4 separate regions of the Homo sapiens genome follow, and all the other regions are linked to region 3. The links come from fine-mapping of genetic effects on gene expression. A gene starts in region 3. Each other region holds a variant in brackets. All regions are shown on one strand. Distances are between the middles of the regions.

Region 1 (4,299 bases), 29 kb before region 3:
GGTTATTTTTGCTGCCAAATGACAATACAAACCATCCACAATATCAGGCTCTTCAAAATTCAAGGATGCGTTGTATAAGAGAATGATTGGTGACTTGGATCTTGTTCCTTTTCCAGGATGTCGTCACCACCAGACCCAGTCGAGACATCCTCTCTCTACCAGGCGCCCCCAACAAGTCCTTCCTTCAAAAAGAGAATAGTTTTTAATAACTTTCAAGGTCACCTGCAAAAGGGTTTCTGTTTGAGTAATGTAATGACTGTAAAGCTGGCAAAAAACTGTATCGCCAGCTGATAGCTTGAGTCAGACTGGAAAATTACGAGCAAATTTTTCCATGAACCAAGAGGAAGTGTCCAGTCATTGTTGAGAGCAGGTTCATAGCTGTGTACGAGCTCTAGGAGATGGGGAGGCCCGTGCAGACCTACTTCCTTCAAGAAGGGAAGACAAAAGAAACACGTTTTGAGTTTGGGTTTTTAGATGGTTGGGAAGTTTATGTTATAGGATTTTTTTTTGAGGGGGGGGTTTGTTTGTTGATTTTTGTTTTTAAGTTATGAGAGTTATTTTCTTTTTCTTCCTTTTTTTTTTTTTTAGAAGGAGTTTCACTCTTGTTGCCCAGGCTGGAGTGCAATGGTGCGATGTCGGCTCACCACAACTTCCACCTGCCAGGTTCAAGTGATACTCCTGCCTCAGCCTCCTGAGTAGCTGGGATTAGAGGCATGCGACACCATGCCTGGCTAATTTTATATTTTTTGGTAGAGACGGGGTTTCTCCATGTTGGTCAGGCTGGTCTCGAACTCCTGATCTCAAGTGATCCACCCACCTAGGCCTCCCAAAGTGCTGGGATTACAGGCGTGAGCCACCGCGCCCGGCTCTGAGAGTTATTTTCTACTAACCAATGATGTACTGCTAGATTTTGGAATAAAAGGTTCTATGTGTGTGGGGAGGGGAGGAAGGAGCAGAATCAAAAAGCCCTGAGCAATGATAGGATGGATTAGAGTTTGGAAAGGGAAACGTGGGGTCCAGAACACACTGGTTAGGCTGTGGCAAGGGGGTCCTCTTGACATCCTCTAACCAGATCTCACAGCACACTTCCTGCCATGTCGCAGCAGAGACCAGCCCTCACCAGACCCGGTGCTGACATTAACCAGGTGCTGCCCTGAGCGAGATGGCGTCCTGCCACGCCTGCTCCGTCATCTGGGAGATGCCTTGTCGGCAGCTCCAAGGCCTCCTGTGGGAAGGCATGAACGTCTGTCCTCACGTCCCTGCTTCCCTTATTACCCAGCGGTGGAAGTTCATCCCCCACTCTCCTATCTTCCTGAATTCATCCCATCCTTTGTTGGCCCTGTGTGTGGTTTCTTCCTGTACTCTCTTTTGTGGATTTTTGTAGAATTTCAGAAGTGATTGTGATATTAGATGTGATCATCTCTGCTCTGCCTGCTGCTGGGGATGTGTGGCACTGACCCACTCTCCCCATTTTCCTCATTGTGGCTCTATAGTCAAAAAGGCTCTTAGGCCCCTTCTAAGTTCTTTCTTCTCCAGGCTAACATCCTTTTCTTCTTTAAGTCCATTTTTAACATTGGTTGTGAGTTAACTCCTGACCTCTCCCCCTCTGTCTAGTCCATGCTGGTCACTCCCTCCTTGCTCTAAAAGTGAAGGTGCTGGTGGGAGCAGGACCTTCTGGCTATCCCCAGGCAGGCCCGTGCCTCCCTCGAGGCTTTGACATTGTGATGTGTGTGTCTCTTCACACCAGGGTGGGAGCCCCTTGAGGGAAAGAACCACGCCTTTCTCTCTCGGGAGAAAGCCCCTGTCAGACAGCAGGCATTTGAAATTAAACAGAACATTATAATTCTGGGTCCTAACCTTTATAAATGCAAGGCAAGACTAGATTATGTTAGCGGATTTGTCAATATTCATTTGGTTCAGTCTTATTGCACAGATAGGCAATTAAAGCATTTTAAATGGGCTGTGCTTAAGTGTGGTCCCCCTCTCATGTACTCCTATAGCAGGCTTTAAAACACTGCATTGCGCTTAAAGATCTGCTTCTTGGATTTGGGCTGTTGAGCTCTTTTCCTTCTTCCACATCATTCCCTCAACTTCTCAAGAAGTTGTCAACTTGAGATGCTGACACATTCTGCAAGTGCACAGGGACACAGCCCTAAGAGTGATCAGCTACCCCCAGTGCCCATCAGTGGTTCAGTGAAGGACGGCATCCCTGCTTAGAATTTGACCATTCAGTCTGCCGGTTACCAAAACCATGTTCATGCTTTAGTGTAAAGGTTTAGCATCAAGGTTACGTCCCAG[G/T]TGATGCTTCAAATCCAAACTTCCCCCTTCCCTGGGCTCCTGTGGTCTTTTGTTCTCTTGCAGCGCTTCCGGACTGTGGTTAGCTGATTATAGTTATTTTTTCCTACATCATTAGGTGGTGAGCTTCTCCGGGACAAAGTCTGTCTCATTATTCATCTTTGTTTGTAGCAGGTGCCTGACAAATACTGATAGAATTAAAATAACTTTTGTTTGTCTCACATTTTGATAAATGAACAGGGCTATATTTACCTGAACGTTTATGATTTCATACATGGACAGCATATTTCCTCTTGGGCTTTTCTCTTCCTAGACTGGATAGATTTAATGATTTTAGTTTTATGTCACAGGACAACCCTCCACCTGGAAGAACTGAAGTTCTATTAAGTTTAGGGGTTTCTGGCTAATTTGTAAATTGTTGAGAAAGAATCCACCTTGTTCTGGTCAAAAGGTGACAAATATAGTTAACTTCAACAAAGGGCAGAGAGTCAGCTATTGTTTCTGCCAATGATTACTTTTGTTATATGCTTGAGATCAGATACTAGTCATTTGTATCCCAGTTAACTTAATATAGATAGCATTTTCTAATATTTTCAAGCGTTACTCTAATGCTTTTTGACGCCTATTTTGAACATCAATCTTTTAAACTCATTATATATTATTCTATAATTTATAGAAAAATCATCACACTTTACCTAATTCTTGTTTGTTTGTTTGTTTGTTTTGAGACAGAGTCTCGCTCTGTCACCCAGGCTGGAGTGCAATGGCGCGATCTCGGATCACTGCAAGCTCCGCCTCCGGGGTTCATGCCATTCTCCTGCCTCAGCCTCCCGAGTATCTGGGAATACAGGTGCCCGCCACCACGCCCAGCTAATTTTTTTGTATTTTTCGTAGAGACGGGGTTTCACCGTGTTAGCCAGGATGGTCTCGATCTCTTGACCTCCTGATCCGCCTGCCTCGGCCTCCCAAAGTGCTGGGATTACAGGCGTGAGCCACCGCGCCTGGCACTTTACCTAATTCTTATAGGCAATATTTTCTTTGGTACTTGGGACTTTTTTTAAAGAATAGTATCCTCAAATTGGAATTAGTGTGTCAAATAATATGAATGCTTTTCTGATTCAATTGGATTTTTAATTTTTATACTTACTCAAATAATTTATACTGACTGTTGAAAAATAGATAAGCAATTAATAATAAAGAAAGTCCCCCTTGCTTTCACTATTTAGAAATAACTACTATAAATATTTTTATGTATATTTGTGTACACTTTTTTCTTTACATGGATGTTTATTTCACAAAATGTGGAATCTTACTGTTTATGCTATTACATAGCTTATTTTTTTAAATTATTGTGAATTTTTTCAGCTATAAAAAGATATTTTCTCAAAAATTTTTTTCAAAAGAATATATTTTTTCAACACAGTTTTAATAATTGCACTGTATTCCATGGAATAATAATACTAATAGTTAACATTTGTTTTGTAATTTTTATATGCTATGCAATATTCTATTTGTTTTATATACCTAAGCTCATTTAATCATCACAATAACCCTGTGAGATAGGTACTATTACTCTATTTTAGCAAAAAAAATTATGCATAGAAATATTAAATGACTTGCCTAGTTATGGGCATACCATAAATGTGCATGACCCAGTAGGTCATTGTAGAACATTTTAGTTATTTATTTTTTGTTTGCCATCATAAGAAATGTTGCTATTAATTCATGAAACAAATATTCACTGAGCTCCCACTCTATGCTGGGTGTTTTGCTAGAAGCTTCGTATGTAAGGGAAAAACTGTTGCAGAAAGTAGGCTTGGCTGGGAAAGAGACCTATTTGAAAGGATCCTGGCATGAGATGGCGTTTTCTCTCTTCTGTTTGCTCACATCGCGGAGGGGAACTCCATACTGCAACAGCAGCCCCTGGCTGGATGTGGTTTTGTCTCTTTCGTCAGCAGGGATATCTCCCGCCCCACTTCCTTGCTCTCTCAGGAAGGCCCCCTC
Region 2 (4,299 bases), 42 kb after region 3:
ATGAGTCTCGTTGTAGGTGGAATCGTCCCAAGAAGCCAATGCTGAGGTGATGCGAGAGATGACCAAGAAGCTGTACAGCCAGTATGAGGAGAAGCTGCAGGAAGAACAGAGGAAGCACAGTGCTGAGAAGGAGGCTCTTTTGGTGTGTGTGTTGTAGCTGCCGATGTAAACTTACCGGGAATTGTTGGTTCATTATTGTTGGTGATGTATACGTAGTAGTGTTTATTCTTAGAGGTGGGTCAGTAGACTCAGCCATGGGTAAGGGATCAAGGAATTATTCATCTGCTCATTCACTCCCCTCCCCTCTTCCCCTCTGCCTTTATTCATCCCCGTCTCTACTCAGAATAGCCCCTTGTCTCTGTCTCTAAATACACACCTTTTTCTAGCTCATCTGACAATTTGCCAGCATCTAAGCAAACCCTGGGCTTGCCCGCAGCTGTGCCCTCCCTCCCTCCATTTGGTTCTCTCTACCTGAAATTTCCTCCTTCCCTATCTTTGATCTTGCCTAAGCTCCCTAAAAGCCTTAAATGCCACTCTCTCCATGCCTGGAGTCTCTTCCAGTCATGGAGCCAGAACCATTATCTGTCCTTAGGAAGCTCACTCACTCTCTCTCTGCTTTTACTTTGGAATTCTTTTATACCTGCCATTAGAGTGGGGCTGTGCGTCTCACATCTTGGCTTTTCCAGGAGATTATAAGTTCCTGAAGGCGGGGACTCCATGTCTGGCTCATCTGTGTCCGTAGAGGCTTAATACATGTTCTGATGATTGACTGGGTTTTCTTGTTAGTAATGAGCTGATGTATTGCATTATGGGAGAAGGATCTGGGAATTCTGCATTCAATTCCAGATCTGGTTCTAATTCCCTTACACTTCTGGCAAATACAGTGACATTCTGAGCATCTACTCAATGTTATTAAACATTTGTAGGCCTCTTTTACACCTTTTGGATATAAAGACTTAAGGGAAAAAAGGGAAAAAAATGTAGTGAGGCCCATTAACCAGCCACATGATGTATCTTTATTCATAGGTGAGAACCAGAACCGTGAGGTTGAGTTCATGATCTGTGAGACACTTTCAGGTTCCAAGGTCATGTTTTAAAGAGAAATCGTGATCTAGCAAGGCCTGAGCTGATTGGATCCCGGTGAGTAGCCTCGGTACTCCATGCCTGTACTTAGGAGGGTATATTTCTTTTGCAGGAAGAAACCAATAGTTTTCTGAAAGCGATTGAAGAAGCCAATAAAAAGATGCAAGCAGCAGAGATCAGCCTAGAGGAGAAAGACCAGAGGATCGGGGAGCTGGACAGGCTGATTGAGCGCATGGAAAAGGTAGGACACAGCGTTGGGCCTATTGCCCACTTGCCCAAACTTTTCCCTGTAGGTCCATCTGAGATACGAGAGGCCCTGGATATGGATTCCTCTCACCTCCAAAATTTGCAATTAAAAAAAAAAAGACAAAGCTATAAAATAAAGTATAAGGAAGTCCAACAACGTTCTCATTTTTCCCATGATAACTATTTTGATGCTTTTAAAAAATATTACTTGTGAAATTCTTTAGAAAAATTAATATTTTAGCAGCCTTGCTTTGCTGGTGCCCCAGGTGTGAACTTAGTTTATCCATTGAATTATCAAGCCCTATTTAGGTGTTACATCAACACAGCAGCCCTGTTGTTTCTGGGGCATGTGTCTCAAGGGTTGGCTTTTCCTTGACACGCTGGGGACTTGAGAGAGTAGGGAGGCCCCATTTCTCTAGGTGTTGTAAGCAGGCTGGTGAGTGTGGTGGGGGAACCTGAGGAAGGCGGGAGCTCAGCTGGGATAATGAAGCCTGTCTAGTGAAAGGGAAGAGGCCAGGAATTAAGTAGGAAGTGGAGGAAGGGGAGGAAGTGGTGGGAGAAAGGAAAGAGGAAAAGAAGGAAGAGAAGGAAGAGAAAGGATGGGTGACCTTTAGCAGGTGACGGCTGACTTCTGGACCCAGGAGTTCAGGGCCAAGTCTGTGGCTG[G/C]TTTCTGGGAATGGCTCCCTGGCTGCATATGAGTTTGCAGAGAGCAGTGACCTGCCAAGACCCTGACATTATTAGCACCCTGTGACTCATTCGGGATGCCAAGAATCTCCAATCTGATGATGGAGGCAGAGGTGGGGCAGCAAGAGCAAGGTCACTGTCAGGCTTCATGTGATGCTGAGAAGAGGTCGCCTTAGCTAATGGTGTTTGCAGCATAAGCCCCTGTACTGTCCCCTCATAAGGCGAGGTGTCGCCACTATGGGAACTGCATGAAATTCAGTTCTGTGGAGCTTCAGAGCTCACTGGGTGCTTCGTTTTAGCTCTTTAGCTTTTTACTTGGGAGAGACTTGGGCAAACTAAAGAGTCAATTACAATCTCCCTTCTACCCCCTGGGAAAACAGAATCCCATCTTTTATTGAAGAGTAGGTGATTGGCTTAGTCAGGACTAACATTAGTATTGACCAGAGGGGGTGGTGGTGAAGATTGGGCAACAAGGGAGCTTTCTAGAGCTTGAGTGAGCTTCCTCCCACATTATTGTCCTCCTACAACAGCAGAAGATCCCAGTTAACTCAGATGCTCTCTCTCTGGGCAGCAGGTTTTTCTGCAGCGTAAAGAAGCAAGGTGAGCCGGCAGCATAGCAGGGTGGTCTGGGGGAGATGCCGTCATACAGAGAAACCACAGGTAGTGGTCATGAACATAGGCTTTAGAATCAGACAGTCTGGGGATTTGAATCTTGTGTCTCTTTGTAGTTGTTTGCACTTACTTGGTTTTTCCTAACTCAGTCTCCACTTCTGTAAAATGCTGATAATGGTACTTCTTATTCTTAGGGCTTTTGTGAGCAATAAATGAGAAAAATCCACGCCAAGTGCTAAGCATGGTTCCTCGTATATAGTAAGGGTTCGATCATTTGTGGCTATGATTTTTACTCTGTTACGAGGTTGCCTAAATGTCTACCCTCAGAGTCAGGTTGTCTTTAGCACGACCCATTTTATGCTTATCTTCATTGCTGTCTTGAGGTTCTGAAAGTTTCTTGTCTTTCCCCACTGATTTTCACATGGAGCCCTCATGTGGGATGAATGGGTAGAGCCAGGAAGCTGGTAAGGCCAGCCCTCCCTGCCAGCATTTAGGAAACACAAAACCTTCCCCAAGTGGTGTTGGCTTCTTCTTTAGTGATTGGAAATGTATTGTCCTTTCTCTAAATCTTCCTTTCCATTTAGGCTAGAGAAATGCTCTATTTATTGAACTAACATTAGGTAGGCCAATTTACACTGTTTCCTTTTCAGGGATAAATCTGTGAGAGCAGGAATCTGGCCAAATCGCTGTCTCACACTACGTGAACGGCATGTCCTAGGCAGGGCTGTGGCAGTGTACGTATCCTGCTCTCAGTTTTGGATTTTGCTCAAGGACAAACCATGTGCTTTTGAATGGCTTCTCTGCCATATGCCTTAGTTTACTGTTTCTCTTGCTGAGCACTGTATTTCAAACACCTTTTTTTCTGATCAGTAAAAATCTTTTAAGGAGTGTTCTCTACCAGGGACCCTTCTGGGGAACAGATAATAGTCTATGCCATAATCTGGGCAGTGGTTTCACAGGTGTTTACAAATGTAAGAAATAATTGTGCAGTGTACACTTAAGATTTATTGTACCTCAATTTAAAACAAATTTTAAAAGTGTGCTGTAAGTTAGACCTTGCTCTACTTTATGACAGCCTTTTTCTTTCTTGTTTTTTGTTTTTTTTTTCTTTTTGGAGGGAGGCATTCACTTGTGAAAGCTTTTATCACTGTTATTTCGGGGCTAATGTAAAACTTCCAACCACATAGGGGCAGGAGGAATGTTCTGCTCAGGCCAGGCCATAAGAATGTGCATTTGCTGTAGAGATTTAAAAACAGTAACAAAACCCCAGTCAAAGTTGATCTACCTTTGTTATTTTAAATATTTCAGAGATAATATATTCTTCCTGCTTAAGGTGGACTGCTTCCCCACCCCTTTGGCCTACCTCTTGGTATACCACTGCTTATAGCTTCAGAAGTTGTGGCAGTTAAATTTTCAAAGATTTGCTTTTAATAATTTGGTAGAAAAGAGGTTTGGAATCTATGTAGCTAGTAAGAGTTTGCTGGGTGGAATTTCCGAACATAAAGATGAGGAACATTAGTTCTTAGAGAAGGACCTAAAGTAAAATAATCTCCCAATTAGTGAGCGTTATTTGATAAACTTGCATTTTAAGGAAATTTGTTACACTAACATCTGTAATGTATTTTTAGCACAATTTCGGTTATGACAGGCACCATGTTTTTATGAACATTTTTC
Region 3 (4,299 bases):
GGTTGGCAAGGATCTTAGTTTCTGTTTTTCATGACCATGAGTGAGTTGAAATCTTACTCTGTAATAACATTTCTTCATTCTTTCCACATTTACTTGCACTACCACACGTCAATTACCTGCTCTAGATATTGGACAGGCAGAGATGTAAACAAGATCCAGCTTCTACACAGAGCTCACAAGCTAGTGAGCTGTCTGCTGCTTTTGTAAAGAAATATAACACCGTGTGAATAGGATGTTAACAATATGAAAAAGACTTGGGTAGATTAGAGGGCTTCGTGGAAGTGGAATGGGAAGGAACCTGTCATGAACAATTTTCTTTTTGGAAGGGATAGGTGGATGGGAGGATGCAGAGAGGAGTGTAGCAGAAAAGCAGAAGGACTTGGGTTAGAAGACTAGATGTGTAGTCTCAGCTGTTCACCAATTAACCTAATGTCTCTGGCCTCAGTTTCCTCATTTGCAAAACAGGGGCGATAACTGTAGCCCACCTTGTGGGGCATTGTGAGAATTGGTTGAGAAAATGCATATAAAGCACTTAGGACACAAGCACAGCTACTGTGAGGATGACGATGAGGATGGTGAAGAACAGGCTGTGCAACTTTGGGAAAGTCACTTGTATACACCGGCCTCAGTTTCCTCATCTACAAAAGGAGTGAGTTCCACAGGATCATCTGTAATTCTGTTTAGCAACATTTTTTTTTCAGCATCTTCCCTGTTGGTGCCATTGGGCATTCAGAGAGGGTCAAGGCCTGGCCTCTGCCCTCCAGAAGGACAGGGTACAGGCACACACATAGATAACTCTAACAGAAGACAGGGTCCCGCGGAGCTGCTAAGTTCCTGAGCATGCGTGTTTGGGGAAGGGGTTTCTGGAGAGCTCCGTGGGGAGGCAGTGCTTGACCTGGGCTTTGAAGACAGAGATTGTGTCTTTCCCTGCTGAAAAACACTTTGTCCTCAAGATAAAGGCCAAATTTCCAGCTAAGCACACAGGTTCCTCATGATGTCCTCAGCTCCCTTCCGCTGCTTCTCCACTGTTTTCCCACTGCACTGTGATACTTCCAATTCTTGAAACATATTTTATACCTTCCCTTGCTTTCCTTCCATCTTTGTGCATGCTAGTTCTTTTGACCTGGGACTCCCTCCTCCCTCTGTTAGGGGACAGCAGAGGGGACAAGCAAGGCACTAGGGTCGGACTGGGGGATTCATATCCTACCTTTGCCACTGAGAGGCCAGTGGGTCGCCTGCTGTGTTGCTCAATCCCTAGGTGAGTCAGCGTCTTCATCTGCAAAATGGGGATACAAGGTAACAACAGTGACTCCCTCAAAGGGCAATGGTGAGGATTAAATGAGGTAACACACGCAAAGTGCTCGCCAGGCAGGCCCACAGTAATCATTGAATAAATATGGGCAGTGTGGCCCACTCCTACTTGCATTTCAGGTCTTAGCTTAGTCATCACCTCCTCTGAGGTTGGCTGTGTGCTCCCTTAGTACATGGTATCTCCTCTTCTACCACAGCCCGGCACCTGTCATCCCCACCACACTGCAAACTCTCCGAGGCCAACAGCCAGTCGACTGGGTTGGCTGCTGGTGGGGACGCATAATAGGCATTCAGGAAATACTGAATGAATGACATGGGGTGAGGGTCCCAGTGATACGAGGGCGTGCAGAGGCTGTAGGGGGCAGTCCGGGGTGGGGGTAGGTCGTGAGACTGAATGGGCAGGTGGATCTCAACTCTGCGGGGGACAGAGAGAGCATGGGCGTCCAGGCTGTCCAGGGCTCCTTCTTGCCCTGGGACTGACCCTGGGAGGGCGCAGCGCCCTGGGAGAGGATGGTGCTCAACTTTAACCGGGTCGGCGCCCTCGGGAGAAAATGCAGCCTGACGGGTCGGGTGAGCGCGCTCGGCCCCGCCCCGGCCCGGCCCGGCCCCGCCCCCGGCCCCACCCCCGGGCCTTCGCGGTGCAGCTGAGGCTGCAAGTAGCCGGCGCCGTCCCGCGTCGCCCCCGCGCAGGGCGGGCCCCGCACGCTTATTCTGCCCGGGAGGAACGCCGGCGTCCAGCCCGCTACCGACCGCCGCTGCGGGATGCTGCGCTCCACGTCCACGGTCACCCTGCTCTCGGGCGGCGCCGCCAGGACGCCCGGGGCGCCCAGCAGGAGGGTGAGTAGCGGGGGCGGGAGCCGCCGCCGTCCCGTTCCCCCATCCCGGCCGCCCCCTCTAGAGGGGACTAGGGATGGGAAAGCTCGGGAGCCAGCACCTGGCCCCGACGCCCCACCCTGGGCTCAACTCCCCGGTCCTGTGCCGGCTCTGGCAGTGACCCTCCCGCTTGAGGTTTCAGGGGGCCCACCAGCTGGTAGGAGAGGGCTTAGGGGACTTTATGGAATTCCCAGAGATTTCCTCTCCTTCCTGCCTTTCTGTCAAGCCGAGTTTATTGGCGGCACCAGTTTAAAAATGAAGGAAGACATTTGTGCAGTGTCCCTACCTTGAGACTCAAAAGTAATGAATGTATTTAAAACTCAAACTTTCCTTCTTCCATTAATTAAAAGAAAGATGGGGTCACTTGTGTCCACTAGTGATAGGGTATCCACTAGTGATAGGGTAATTCTGGAGTGGGGTTAGCCAAGGTGGGCAAACCAGAACAGCAGCCGGCCGCCCAGGAGCCCGACTGTGTGGGACTCCGGTTTATGTAAACCACTTTCTTCTGTCTGATTTAAATATTAGCACAGTGACAACAATGGCAGCACTGAAAGCTTGGGACAGCATCTCCAGGGAAGGTTTCCCTTTGGAAGTGCTGTTTCTTTTTGATCTTTGTGGCATCTTTTCCCATCTCTCCAGATGCTCTGTAAAAGAAATGCTCCATCTTTCTAACACGGTCAGCACCTTAGAGCCACAGCCAGGGGCTTGGCTTGTGGCTTTTTAGTTCTTCCATTTATCATGATGTTCAATACTTATCATTTGGTACCTCTTTGCTCTGATTGAGACTTCTGTAATCGTGTTTCCTCAAGATTTAAACAGGTGGTTAAGTCCAAAGCAAAACCCCCACTGGTTCTGTCTGCGTGCAGGCTTGGACCTGCTTATTTGCTTTTACATGCCTTAAGCGAGTGATGGTGGTCACCTTATAAGCTGTCTTTCTTAGCTCTAGAAGAAAGGTGTGTTACTCTTGGGCATGGGCCAACTGATGGATTCTGGGGTGTGTGTGTGCGTGCACTCACCAGACACTTAGGTTGTGTACACAGGCGCACACACACACACACACACACACACACCCCAGAATCCATCAGTTGGCTCATGCCCAAGGTTGACAGAACTCCAGTTGTCCAATCATTAGCATCATAGAGTAAGATCTACATTGGGTCCAAGGGGGTTTCCAACCACAGTCCTGGCCTTACTCTAAGTTGGGTGTTTGTATTTTTCTATGGAAATCTTTCTCAATTTGAACACAATTGCAACTGAGAAAGAATGAAGTCACTGAAAAGCTAACCCTGAGCCCTGAGAGGATCATATGTGTGACCAGACTGCATGAATTGCATGAAATTCTCTGTAACTTCCCTTCCAGAGGTGGGGATTAGTTGGGGTACCTAACCTAATACGGTGGGTTGATACAAATGTGACTAGTATACAAATAACATTTCTGAAGATTTTGGGTCAAACGTTTCCTTTGGAATATTTATTTAATTATAGGTGCTTTGCTGTCGGACACATTGTGACACTCTTGAAAAGACTTTGCCTTTTGAATAAGATGGCAGACGTATTTTGGACTGGAGAACTCAGGGCTCGGGATCAGGCCATTCAGGGCTGTCCTGGGTACACTGGTACTTGTTTCTGGAAGGAAGGTATCTAAAGGGTCTAGGGTTCTGCCCATCTTTATGGTTTCTAGCTCTGCTCATGATTTGCAGATGTTACAAGTACTATCTGTGTGTGTGCTGGGGATTGTGTGTGTGGTGGGAAGCTGTGAGATGTTGATTAATTGATTTATTGAACATTCATAAACCTTTCTCTGTGTGGTAAAGGGCTGGCATTGGGGTCCGCCCTACCTGTAGAGGCAGACATTTTCCCAAACTAACATCAAACAAAGTGGTGATGGTTATAGTGGGGTGAAGAGTTTACAAAGTTCTGTAGAAGCTAAAATAAAGGTTCTTCCTGAGGCATCAGGGGAAGGCCTCTCACTAAAGGTATGTTTTTTTGAGATGGAGTCTCACTTTGTCATCCAGGCTGGAGTGCCATGGCACGATCTCGGCTCACTGCAGCCTCCACCTCCCAGGTTCAAGCAGTCCTCCTGCCTCAGCCTTCCGAGTAGCTGGGACTACAGGC
Region 4 (4,299 bases), 37 kb after region 3:
CCTCTCAAAAGTTCCAAAACCTATTTCAAATCCTTTCTGGTTCTATATAAGTAATTTTAGATAAATAAATTTTCATGTTGGGATTCTCCACTTCCCCTAATTCTCTGATAACAGTTGGTATGGCAGCAGTGACAACAGCAGGGCTCGGCCACTGTCCTGGAGTGGGTCTGGGTGGCCTCGTGTTTGGGGTCATCTGCGATGCCCATTTCTGGTGGGGCTTCTGAGTCCCACCCTTTTCCTGGCTCTCTTGAGTGTATGCCAGCTTTCCCCTGGCCTCAGGCCAAGCCCCACTGGGTCTGGTTTGCTCAGCAGCCTTTGTTTTCCCTTCCTCCTGTGGTCGGGGGGGCTTGCCAAGGCTCCCTTTCCTCCCCTTTCGGACGCTGTCTCATTCCCAGCCCACCAGCAAGGGCTTTATCTCACCTGAGTTCAGACTTAGTCGGTATTTGTACTACATCTCTGGTTTTTCTTCCCAGAAAGAAAAATATATTTGCCAGTATTTTCTGGCAATTCTTGTGCTTTGCCATCTGGCCAACACTCTGGCATTTACTGCAGAGGTCAGCTGTTTGAGCTGGGCCAGCTCTGACCCAGGCACCTTGACTGATTCCTAGTTATCATGCAGGCTCTTAGTCCTGGACAGCCAAAGGAGCCTTATAGCTAAAACCGCTGAGAGAAACAGAAAGAGAGAGACAAAGAGAGAGGGAGAGGGAGGGGGAGGGGGAGGGGGAGGGGAGGGGAAGGGGGAGGAGGAGGAGGAGGAGAAGGAGAAGGAGAAGCCATCTCACAGCAGGAAACTCAACCTGGTAGAGGAAGAGGGCTGATGCACGGTGTTAGGCACTGATGCTGAGGACCACTCGAGTACCTGGTGGACCGAGTCTGAAGAGAGCTGGCTTCTTCCTTATGCAAGACCCCAGCCTCTTCCACTGGCCCACTCTGTCCACTTTCATTATTATTGACAGGGAGACCAGACCCTTGGTTTGATTCCATAGAATGTCAGAGCTAGAAAGAACTGAGAGGATCTCAGTTTTATGAATAGACAAACTGAGGCCGACAGAGAGAAATGACATGAGCAAGATGCCTACCTAGTGACAGAGCCAGGATTAGAAAAATCCTGGTCTCTTGGACCAGAGTGTAGGTTTTTGTGTGGATACACGAGTAGAATCTGTGAAGCCAGTGGGGCTGGGGGAGTGGGTGGCTGGTCTAGGTGGTTTCTAAAGCCCCTTGAAGCTCAAATGTTCTGTGACTCCATGCTTCCAAATAGCTTCAGTATTTTCTTTAGTATCTAATCACCTCCTTCAGAAATTCTTTTTCTTGATTCAAGTAGGTTTAGGAGTGAAAGGCTTATATTGTCCAAAGTAGAGGCTGAGGAATTGAGGAAGCTTCAGAGACTGATCATCTAGACAAGAGCACAGAGGTGTTAGAAACAGTGCCCAACACCAGGGTTTTCACATCTTCTAATGTGAAATTGTAGATGACTGGGGACACAGTAGAAGATGACTTTCCAACGGCACAGATTCTGTGGAGGCCATTTATCTCTAAGGAGAGTTAACCAAGTAGAAACCAAAGCAGTAAATAGCACCACCATTTTTTTCTTTTTCTTTTTTATTATTTTTTTAGAGATGGGGTCTTGCTCTGTTGCGCAGGCTGGAGTGCAGCAGTGTGATATAGTTCACTGCAGCCTTGACCTCCTAGGCTCAAGTGATCCTCATGCCTCAGCCTCCTGGGTAGCTGGGGCTACAGGTACACACAACCATGTCTAGCTGGTTTTTAAATTTTTTTTGTAGTTGCCCAGGCTAGTCTTGAACTCCAGGCTCAGGTGCTCCTCCCACCTCAGCCTCCCAAAGTGCTGGGATTACAGTCATGAGCCATCACGCATGGCCAACACTATTGATTTAAACATCCTTGCTTCAGTGCGGCCTGGAGCAAAAATTACTTGTGCGGCTTGGAGCAAAAATCACTTGTCTGCATTACCAAATTCTGTTCCTTAGTACTTCTTTATTACTACCCTTCTCTGCCTAAGGGAGGAAGGTGAAATGTTTGCAGGTATGTGAGTATTCTCAGTCACATTGTCACTATCCTGGCAGGCAGTCTAGAAGCGCAGAAGGGATAGCTCTTTTAAGAAAAAAGGGAGGCCGGGCGTGGTGGCTCACGCCTGTAATCCCAGCACTTTGGGAGGCCGAGTCAGGTGGATCACGAGGTCAGGAGTTCGAGACCAGCCTGGCCAATACGGTGAAACCCCATCTCCACTAAAAATACAAAAATTAGCCAGGCGTGGTGGCAGGCGCCTGTAGTCCCAGCTACTCGGGAGGCTGAGGCAGGAGAATCGCTTGAACCTGGGAGGCAGAGGTTGCAGTGAGC[C/T]GAGATCGTGCCACTGCACTCCAGTCTGGGCGACAGAGTAAGGCTCTGTCTCAAAAACAAAAAAAAAAAAAAAAAAAGAAAAAGAATAAAAAGAGGAATATCTCTATTCTATAAAGCTCGTATTTTGTTTTCTGATTTCATTGTGGCAATTTGGGAAATACAGAAAAAATAAATAAGAAAATAGATACCCATAGCCCTATCACATAGTGAAAACTATCATTCAGATTTCCTCCTGGTCTTTTTCCCCCCAGTGCATAAACATATATTTGAACCAATGCTTATACATATTTTTCAAAATGGGATTATACTATACTTACTATTTTCAAAAGCTGTTTTTTTTCCCATGTGAAATGATGTATTATAATACTTTTCCTTGGAAGGACTCCATTTTAATCCATTTCCATCCATCCTAAGCAGTGGCAAGTGGTGTTGGCAGCAGCTATGGGATGGTATGGGAGAGGTTTTCAGTCCCTCCAAGCTACAGGGGCAGACCTCTTGGCCACCATGGGAGACCCACAGTCCCTCACAGCACAGGGTCCCAGACTGGCAGTTGCTGTAGCCTAGGACAGCTACCCCAGTGCTTAATGATAAGGGGATGCCCCAGCATGTGGTGCAGCCCATGTGTTTTCACGCCACCGGATCTGGTTTTGTTTTTATTTTCATCCTCACAGAAAACCCTCGTGGATGTGACTTTGGAAAACAGCAACATTAAGGATCAAATCAGAAATCTGCAGCAGACGTATGAAGCATCCATGGACAAGCTGAGGGAAAAGCAGAGGCAGTTGGAGGTAGCGCAAGTTGAAAACCAGCTGCTAAAAATGAAGGTGGAGTATAAAAGCCTAGATTTATTTTCTATGAACTTTTCTCCTCTTTACTTCTCCCTTTTCTCTTCCCATCTTCAACCTTTCCATTTCCTTTTCTCCATTCTCTTCTTCATTGGATTTTTTTTTTTTTTTGAGACAGAGTCTCACTCTGTCACCCAGGCTGGAGTGCAGTGGTACAATCATGGCTCACTGCAACCTCCGCCTCCTGGGTTCAAGCAATTCTCGTGCCTCAGCCTCCTGAGTAGCTGGAATTACAGGCACGTGCCACCTTGCCCAGTAATTTTTGTATTTTTAGTAGAGAAGGGGTTTCACCATGTTGGCCAGGCTGGTCTCGAACTCCTGACCTCAGGTGATCCGCCTGCCTTGGCCTCCCAAAGTGCTGGGATGACAGGCGTGAGCCACCGTGCTTGGCCCAGTTTGGGGCTTCTCCATAAATGCCCCCATTGGGCATGCCTTTCTTGGCCTCCAGTCCCTTCAAGGGCTCTTTAGACACTCACCATGGTGCTGTTGTTATGTAACTGAGAAGACGCTTGGGATGCCCACAGATCTGGGACGTCAGAAGCCTTGGAGATCTCTTCCTTCACTGTTTAGATTTTCTTTGAGGTCCCAAGGCCTTTCTGTTTGGCTTGACAATAAAGAGCTGAGGGGCACACAAATAGCTGGTACTTGGGCTGTACCCCAAGTACAATATTCTCAAGAAGAAAATTGGTGGGTGACTAGGGACACTGGGGAATGTCCCATTTGGCCCCCTAGGCTGGGAGCATTCCTTAGCTGAACTTCTAATGCCCTAGAGGCATTAGTGCCCCTCCCAAATTTAAACTGTGGATAGACTTCCTACCCGGTGACAGGAGCAGATCCATGAATGGCTCCTGGAGGGCACTTAATAAATTATATCTTGGATGAATTCCTTTTTATGTAAGTCTGTGGTTTGAAAATTTTGCTCAGCACAGACTTAGGCTATCTTATGAGTAGCGTATCCACATAGTTTATTGCTCAAAGCAGAATATGTGAGGGAGTGAAAGGTGGTACTATTGGTAATTTAGTTAGGGAGACAAACTGGGAAGTGTGGGCCCCTTCACAGGGGTAGGCTGGGTGGGGAAGAGGGGCTGCCGGTCCACCG

Direction of the effects. Positions count from the first base shown, and alleles are read on the strand shown. Sizes are in standard deviations (SD) of each study's normalised expression. Not every link is listed here.
In carriers of allele C in region 2, the expression in skeletal muscle of the gene that starts at base 1,943 in region 3 tends to be lower than with G alone (large effect, 0.75 SD a copy in GTEx).

What was found. PIP is the estimated chance that this variant, and not a neighbour inherited with it, causes the effect.
Region 1: its variant is fine-mapped to the expression of GCOM1 in whole blood (TOPMed, PIP above 0.99). The same link has a PIP of 0.9 or more in blood mononuclear cells and lung.
Region 2: its variant is fine-mapped to the expression of GCOM1 in skeletal muscle (GTEx, PIP above 0.99). The same link has a PIP of 0.9 or more in adrenal gland.
Region 4: its variant is fine-mapped to the expression of GCOM1 in whole blood (INTERVAL, PIP 0.98).

What each region holds. Positions count from the first base shown.
Region 1 is chr15:57,561,264-57,565,562 of GRCh38, forward strand. No RefSeq gene overlaps it. Among named protein-coding and RNA genes, the nearest start is that of GCOM1, 28 kb to the right of the region's middle. The variant G/T (reference allele first, on the strand shown) is at 2,299.
Region 2 is chr15:57,632,418-57,636,716 of GRCh38, forward strand. It overlaps GCOM1 (GCOM1, MYZAP-POLR2M combined locus), which reads left to right. Exons shown (of 17, transcript NR_104371.3): 7 at 17-142; 8 at 1,196-1,324. It overlaps MYZAP (myocardial zonula adherens protein), which reads left to right. Exons shown (of 13, transcript NM_001018100.5): 7 at 17-142; 8 at 1,196-1,324. Among named protein-coding and RNA genes, the nearest start is that of MYZAP, 43 kb to the left of the region's middle. The variant G/C (reference allele first, on the strand shown) is at 1,996.
Region 3 is chr15:57,589,962-57,594,260 of GRCh38, forward strand. It overlaps GCOM1 (GCOM1, MYZAP-POLR2M combined locus), which reads left to right and starts at 1,943. Exons shown (of 17, transcript NR_104371.3): 1 at 1,943-2,148. It overlaps MYZAP (myocardial zonula adherens protein), which reads left to right and starts at 1,943. Exons shown (of 13, transcript NM_001018100.5): 1 at 1,943-2,148. The coding sequence starts at 2,074. RefSeq lists a silencer at 1,832-1,941.
Region 4 is chr15:57,626,676-57,630,974 of GRCh38, forward strand. GCOM1 (GCOM1, MYZAP-POLR2M combined locus) reads left to right here. Exons shown (of 17, transcript NR_104371.3): 6 at 3,027-3,179. MYZAP (myocardial zonula adherens protein) reads left to right here. Exons shown (of 13, transcript NM_001018100.5): 6 at 3,027-3,179. Among named protein-coding and RNA genes, the nearest start is that of MYZAP, 37 kb to the left of the region's middle. The variant C/T (reference allele first, on the strand shown) is at 2,356.